Homo sapiens: one gene and its partner. The protein of the gene in region 1 interacts with the protein of each later gene in a biochemical or structural test. Each region holds a gene or a part of one and is shown in the gene's direction. Other genes may lie near its edges. The genes, in order: EIF4ENIF1 and EIF4E.

The links.
Region 2: the proteins of EIF4ENIF1 (region 1) and EIF4E interact in far-western blotting, tested with the Homo sapiens proteins (one study listed by BioGRID).

What each region holds. Positions count from the first base shown.
Region 1 is NC_000022.11:31,479,817-31,483,634, reverse strand, and holds part of EIF4ENIF1 (eukaryotic translation initiation factor 4E transporter), read left to right. Parts: intron 1-3,818. UniProt on the Homo sapiens protein: EIF4E-binding protein that regulates translation and stability of mRNAs in processing bodies (P-bodies). Plays a key role in P-bodies to coordinate the storage of translationally inactive mRNAs in the cytoplasm and prevent their degradation.
Region 2 is NC_000004.12:98,901,330-98,905,147, reverse strand, and holds part of EIF4E (eukaryotic translation initiation factor 4E), read left to right. Parts: intron 1-3,165; coding exon 3,166-3,272; intron 3,273-3,818. UniProt on the Homo sapiens protein: Acts in the cytoplasm to initiate and regulate protein synthesis and is required in the nucleus for export of a subset of mRNAs from the nucleus to the cytoplasm which promotes processes such as RNA capping, processing and splicing.

The sequences.
Region 1 (3,818 bases):
GCCTCTTCTCAGTGGTATTAAAGGAGAAACTTGGGGAGTAGAGCTTAACCGTCTGCATTTAACAAGCTCTTCAGGGGATTCTGGCTCTGGTTCAAGTTTGAGAACCATTGGCTTAAGAAATGATCACCTGCTCGCTGGGTGTGGTGGCTCACACTTGTAATCCCAGCAGTTAGGGAGACTGAGATGGGAGGATTGCTTGAGCCCAGGAGTTCAAGACCAGCCTGGGCAGGATGACAAGACCCTGTCACTACAAAAAAAATTTAAAAATTAGCTAGGTATGGTGGCGTATTGCCTGTAGTCTCAGCTACACAGGGGACTGAGGTGAGAGAATCGTTTGAGGCTGCAGTGAGCCATCATCGCGCCATTTCACTACAGCCTGTGCAACAAAAAGAGACCCTGTCTCAAAAAAAAAAAAAAAAAAAAAAGATCGTCTCCTGGCAGTGGTGCTCATTCAACTTTTTCTTCACCAGAAGCCCTTGTTCACCAGTTCTGGAATATAGTACCTGCTATTCTGTTAGTGATGCCATCTTCTGCTTGAAATACAAAATAGAAATGTTTTAGGCCATCCCACTATTCAGATCCATGTGGTTTTCTTTTCTGTTTTTTTGTTTTGAGACAGAGTCTCTGTCTGTCGCCAGGCTGGAGTGCAGTGGCCCTATGTCGGCTCACTGCAACCTCTGCCTCCCGGGTTCAAGCAATTTCCCTACCTCAGCCTCTTGAGTAGCTGGGACTACAGGCGCGTGCCTCCATGCCCAGCTAATTTTTTTTACATTTTAGTAGAGATGGGGTTTCACCATGTTGGCCAGGATGGTCTCGATCTCCTGATCTCATGATCCACCCACCTTGGCCTCCTAAAGTGCTCTGATTACAGGCGTGAGCCACCACGCCTGGCCTCACATCCATGTTATTTTCGTCAAGTGAATAGACTAATCTGTTTTTTTTTGTTTGTTTTTGAGACCGCGTCTCACTCTGTCACCCAGGCTGGAGTGCAGTGTTGCAATCTTGGCTCACTGCAACCTCTGCTTCCCAGGTTCAAGCAATTCTCCTGCCTCAGCCTCCTGAGTAGCTGGGATTACAGGCACGTGCCATGATGCCCAGCTAATTTTTGTATTTTTATTAGAAACGGGGTTTCACCATATTGGTAAGGTTGGTCTCAAACTCCTGACCTCAAGTGATCCACCTGCCGTGGCCTGCCAAAGTGCTGGGATTACAGGCGTGAGCTACCGCACCCGGCCAAATAGACTAATCTTATAAAGGATACATACGTTATGCTGTTCTTCCTTTGCTCCTGTGTTTTGCCACTGATTCCTTATTAAATGACTGTCACCTGCCAGTTGGACAGGGAATAAAAGCAGAGACACTCAGAACATTCAGCTTGATACTGACCAGTGTTAAACATGCGTATTAAAGTTAAGTGAATGTTGAATTATCTTAGTTTAACTTCATGTGGAATTTTTTTTTTTTTTTTTGAGACAGGCTCTCACTGTTATCCAGGCTGGAGTGCAGTGGTACAGTTAACTCACTGCAGCCTCGAACTCTGCATTCATGCGATCCTTCCACCTCAGCCTCCTGAGTAGCTAGGACTACAGGTGTGTGTCACCACACATGGCTAATTTTTTCATTTCTTTGTAGAGATAGGATCTCATTATGTTGCCCAGGCTGGTCTCCAACTCCTGACCTCAAGCGATCCTCCTGCCTCAGCCTCCTAAAGTGCTGGAATTCCAGGTGTGAGCCACTGCATCTGGCCCCATGTGGACTCCTCATAACCTTGACTAGTTACAAAGTGGCATTATTGTAGTCATTAGTGTCTCCAGGGATCTTTAAGGGAGGCCATCCTAATTTGTGGCTGGTAGGCCAATTGGTCATAGCAGTCAGTACAGCCATGTTTGTCTTTCCTTTAAAACAATCAGGAAAATGGACAAGCAGTTGAAGTGACTGACTTGAGTCATCCTAGCCTTCTTGGATATAATCAGAAGACTTGAAGCCAATCCCCAGAGAAAAGAGTAACTGATTTAAATCCTAGGTTGAAACAGGAATCAGGTGGTCCCTTTTTCCAGTACAGAAATCTTATTTGATAACTAAATGTATCTTTTATAAACTGAGTAGTAACTCAGGTGGCATTTCTGTGACAAATTTAGGTATAAACTTCTTAAACTAATTTAAGGATACCTATTTATGTTGGAGAAGGTAGAATTATGGTATGAAAAGTCATTGGGAGGACAAGGTGGGAGGATGAATTGAGTCCAGGAGTTCACGACCAGACTGGGCAATATAGTGAGACCCCATCTCGTTAAAAAAAAAAAAAATTGCCAGAGGTGGTGGTGTGCACCTGTGGTCCCAGATACTCAAGAGGCTAACGTGGGAGGATCACTTGAGCTTGGGAAGTTGAGCTTGCAGTGAGCTATGACTGCACCATTGCACTCCAGCATGGGCAACAGAGTGAGACTCTGTCTCAAAGGAAAAAAAAATTATTCAATCTTAATGTGTCAACTGTCCAGAAAACCTATCTTACTGGAAGTTGTTAGAGCAGGCTGGCTGGCAAGACCATAGAGAATAGCTTCTGACTGCTTTTTCCTACCCGTTCCTTTTTTGTTATTGTTGAGACAGAGTCTTGCACGATCTTGGCTCACTGCAACCTCCACCTCCCAGGTTGAAGTGATTCTCCTGCCTCAGCCTCCTGAGTAGTTGGGATTACAGGTGTGTGCCACCATGCCCAGCTGATTTTCTTTTTTTTAGTAGAGACGATTTCGCCATGTTGGCCAGGATGGTCTCAAACTCCTGACCTCAAGTGATCTGCCCACCTTGGTCTCCTAAAGTGCTGGGGTTACAGACGTGAGCCACTGCACCCGGCCCCTGCCTGTTCGGTTTTGTTTTGTTTTCAGAGGGAGTTTTGTTCCTGTTGCCCAGGCTGGAGTGCAATGGCGTGATCTTGGCTCACCACAACCTCTGCCTCCCGGGTTCAAGCGATTCTCCTGCCTTAGCCTCCCGAGTAGCTGGGACTACAGGCGCACGCCACCATGCCCGGCTAATTTTTTGTATTTTTAGTATAGATGGGGTTTCTCCATGTTAGGCTGGTCTCAAACTTCTGACCTCAGGTGATCTGCCCGTCTCACCCTCCCAAAGTGCTGGGATTACAGGCGTGAGCCACCACGCCCGCCCAGGAATATTTCCCTTTTAATCCCCCTTCCATAAATGTGACTTATGTGAAATTCTACATAATGTCAGAAGGTCCATCAGAATGCATAGTTGTTTCTGCATAGGATTTCTGCAGAAAGAAATGGATAAGGATTTTAACCATTGTTCTTTTGGGCTTTTGTTGAGATTCATTTGCTTTCCACTTTAATAGTGATCACCAAAAGTGGGTGTTCATACTAGTAATTCCCCAATAGGTTTTGGGAGCCTTGACACATTTTCTTTAAGGAAGGCTGCTGCAACTAAGAAAATATGTTTATGCTTCCTTGGGTGTGTGGCTCTTGGGCAATTAGCAGCTTGTTCTTGCCTAGTCAGGTTTTAGTAACCTGTGCAAAAAGTGAAGTCTCAGGTATTAACTCTTATATTCGCCATATGGTAATCTTAATGAATTCATTCGTGATCAGTAAGTTCCTATGGGTTAAGACTTTCCAGGCTAGGCACAGTGGCTCACACTTGTAATCCCAGCACTTTAGGAGGCTGAGGCAAGATGATCACTTGAGCCTAAGAGTTCAGACCAGCCTGGGCAACACAGCAAGACCTCATCTCTACAAAAAATTTTTTAAATTAGCTGGATGTGGTGGCATGCACCTGTAGTCTTAGCTGCTTGGGAGGCTGAGGCAAGAAAG
Region 2 (3,818 bases), on another chromosome or scaffold:
GAGTAGAGAGAGGAATATGGTAGGATTTTGCAGTAGAGTTTTGTTTTTAAACTGAATGTAAACTTAAAACTATTTAGTGTCTATAGGAAGCAATCTTAAAAATAAGGTTAGATACCTTAAAATAGAACTTGTTTCTTGAAATATTTTTTAGTTCCCATATAGATCATACGAAAAGATGACTGTCTATGCCCAATAAAAATTTTTATGGTATTTCACATCATTCGTTTTAAAATCTAGTATGTTTAAAAGTGAAGACTAAAGATTTTAAATTAGTATACTTACTGATTCATACATACACACATATTTAAAAATGTGTAGCTCCTTTTTTAAGTTGTTGGAAAAGTACAAAATCATGTGTCCTTTTTTGTTTTGTTTTGAGACTGAGTTTTGCTCTTGTCGCCCAGGCTGGAGAACAGTGGCACGATCTGTGCTCACTGCAATCTCTGCCTCCTGGGTTCAAGCAATTCTCTTGCCTTAGCCTCCCCAGTAGCTGGGATTACAGGCGCGTGCTACCACGCCCAGCTAATTTTTGCATTTTTAGTAGAGATGGGGTTTCACCATGTCGGCCAGGCTGGTCTTGAACTCCTGAGCTCAGGTGGTGCACTTGCCTTGACCTCCCAAAGTGCTGGGATTACAGGCGTGAGCCACCATGCCCGGCCGATTATGTGTTCTTGATATGAAGACTATAGTAATCAGTTACTTACAGTGGGACTTTTATTTTAATTCAAAATAACACTTTAAAATTCTAGGAACTGAATATGTTTTTCCTGAGTGATAACTTGCTTTTAATTCCTGTATGTCCAAAGACTTGAGAGAGAGAGAGAAAGAGGATTGTTTCTTTTTCTTTCTTCCCCTTTCTTCACTGGGTCTCACTTGCTGAGGCTGTTTTCGAACTCCTGGACTCAAGCAGTCCTCTCGCCTTGGCCTCTCAAAGTGCTGCAATTACAGACATAAGTCCCTGCACCCGTTCTGCTTACGTTTCACAAATACTGGGCAGTTGCAAGTTTTGGCTTAGCTGTTCTTCTCTGTTAGGCCAACCAGAGTTACGCTCTGAAAGTGCCAGTTTAGGAGTTAGCCAAAAACCTGTGAGGGATTTTTACATATATTGAGGAGCCCACTTCTCATCTACAGCAGTTTTTCTCTGGTACCCTGTCCCCCAAAGCCTACCTGCCTGCCAGTCTCTCATTGTTTTCATCGAGACTCCCACTGTCTGCCTGGAAACCCATCATTAATTTTAAGCTAGTGGGATAGGAAATGTCATTCAGTAATTATCTGTTTGAACACTTAAATTTACTGGTAAGTAAATGTTGATAAAAATGTTTGGTTTTAAGGCATTACTTACTGTATGTCAATTTTCAGGCCTTAATCATTCTGTGTAAACATTTAAATTTATTCAGTTAAGTAATCAAGTTAATAAGTTCCTGTTGGGTTAAGTACTGTGATTATTGAGTAAAATCAAGACATGGTCTCCGTTCTGGGTGACTTTATAGGCTAATAGAAATTCTTGTACATGTCATATGTTGATAAGAAAAAACATATCCCTTGGGAGGCCAAGGTGGGAGGATTGCTTGAGCTCAGGAGTTTGAGACCAGCCTGGCCAACATGGTGAGACCTTGTCTCTACTAAAAATAAAAAAGAATTAGCCAGGTATCATGGTGCCTATCTGTAGTCCCAGTTACCGTGGAAGCTGAGGCAAGAAGATTGCTTGAGCCAGGGAGATTGAGGCTGCAGTGAGCTATGAGTGAGACCCCATCTCTAAGAAAAATAAAATACAAAAAAAAAAAAAACCCATATTCTTTCAAATAAATATTTACCACCTTTCTGCTCTGCATTCTTTTAGACAATAAATATTTGACTTACATATCTTGTTATGTTAACATAGATCTCTGTTGTTTGCTGCTTCAGTCTGATATCCAAACACTTGTTGCATTGCCCTTTTTTTGGTATCAGTCTTTGTCCTAGTGCCTTTCTTTGGCTCTCTTCTTTTGTTGACAACAATTTATGATAGTATGAAGAGCTACATGGAAGAATGTGGTGAACACCTATTTTAAATTACTGCCCCCAGACTACTTTTCTTTCTGATATTTTTAGATGACAGTGTTAATTTTGTCTAGCCTAAAAGAAGATTTAAGTTCAAGCCAATGTCCATCTTGTTAGGTTCCATTGAAAATATTAAGTTGCCGAACTTTTAGGTTACGATAGGGTAAACAGTATGCCATGAAGGTAAGACCTGCGCATCATTGGCTTGATCACTTTACAAAGCTTTTTTGTCATCATAATGTTGTTTTGTTTTGTTTTGTTTGTTTTTGAGACAGGGTCTTGCCGTGTTGCCCAGGCTGGTCTCAAACTCCTGGGCTCAAGCAATCCTCCTATTAATCCTCCTATTAATCTCCCGAGTAGCTGGGATTGTAGAGACGCACCACAGTGCCCAGTGATACAGTTGTTATACTCTTGAAACTTTAGTTTCCATCCTGTATCCTTCCTGATACCCCCTTCAGTACCATATGCAGTATCTTAATATGATGGTATGTTAAGAAAGATAGAAGATTTTCCCAACTTTGTTGCATAGTCTGTGACAGTCTTCCTGCTATTTAAAAAAAAAAGTGCAAGTGGAAGGATAACTATAAATACTGTTATATTTTCAAATTTGAGAAACCGTTTGCTCTTTGCTCTTAATGAAGAGATATGAGAATAGAGAATGGTTCTTTAGAGTTTGGTCTGTGGTCTGTTTTATGAAGCAATCTGCTTTAATTCCTTCTTCTTAAAAAATACTACTAGTGCCGGGTGTGGTGGCTCACGCCTGTAATCCCAGCACTTTGGGAGGCCAAGGCAGGTGAATCACAAGGTCAGGAGTTCAAGACCAGCCTGACCAACGGGGTGAAACCCCGTCTCTACTAAAAATACAAAAATTAGCCAGGCATGGTGGCACACATCTGTAATCCCAGCTACTTAGGAGGCTGAGGCAGGAGAACTGCTTGAACCTGGGAGGAGGAGGAGGTTGCAGTGAGCCAAGATCGCACGACTGCACTCCAGCCTGGGCAACAGAGAGAGACTCTGTCTCAAAAAAAAAAAATTATCAGCATATCAGTTCAGGTTTAGTTAGAATATTGCTGTCATAGATGTGTTAAGACATTTAAAATAATGTTTTATATTATTTTCCACTAGGAAACCACCCCTACTCCTAATCCCCCGACTACAGAAGAGGAGAAAACGGAATCTAATCAGGAGGTTGCTAACCCAGAACACTATATTAAACATCCCCTACAGAACAGGTAAGCTTTCTAACACCTAGGTTTTCTGAGTTAGGCCACAAGGTAAATTGTGAATGGGGCAAGTTTGAAGGGAAAGTTAGATTATGAGACTAGTTTTAGATATGCTAAGGTTGAGGGTTCTATTTTCACTTGGATGACCCATGACCAGCAGACAGTTTTATGTGTGAGTCTTGAGTTCAAAAGGAGCTATGTGAGAGATTAGTTTGAAAAGTATTGGTCATAATGGAAGCCACATTAGTAAATAAGTTCCCTTAAGGAGAAGTGAACTTGACTCAGGACAAAGACCGGGGATACTAGCATCATATAGGAGGCTTTTGTTGAAGAAGAATGCCTATGAAGGATGGACATACAAAGACAGTGGTGGTCGCCCAACGCGGTGGCTCACGCCTGTAAACCCAGCACTTCAGGAGGCGGAGGCGGAGGCGGAGGCGGGCGGATCACCTGAGGTCAGGAGTTTGAGACCAACCTGGCCAACATGGTGAAACCCCGTCTCTACTAAAAAATACAAAAATTAGCTGGGTATGGTGGCAGACGCCTGTAATCCCA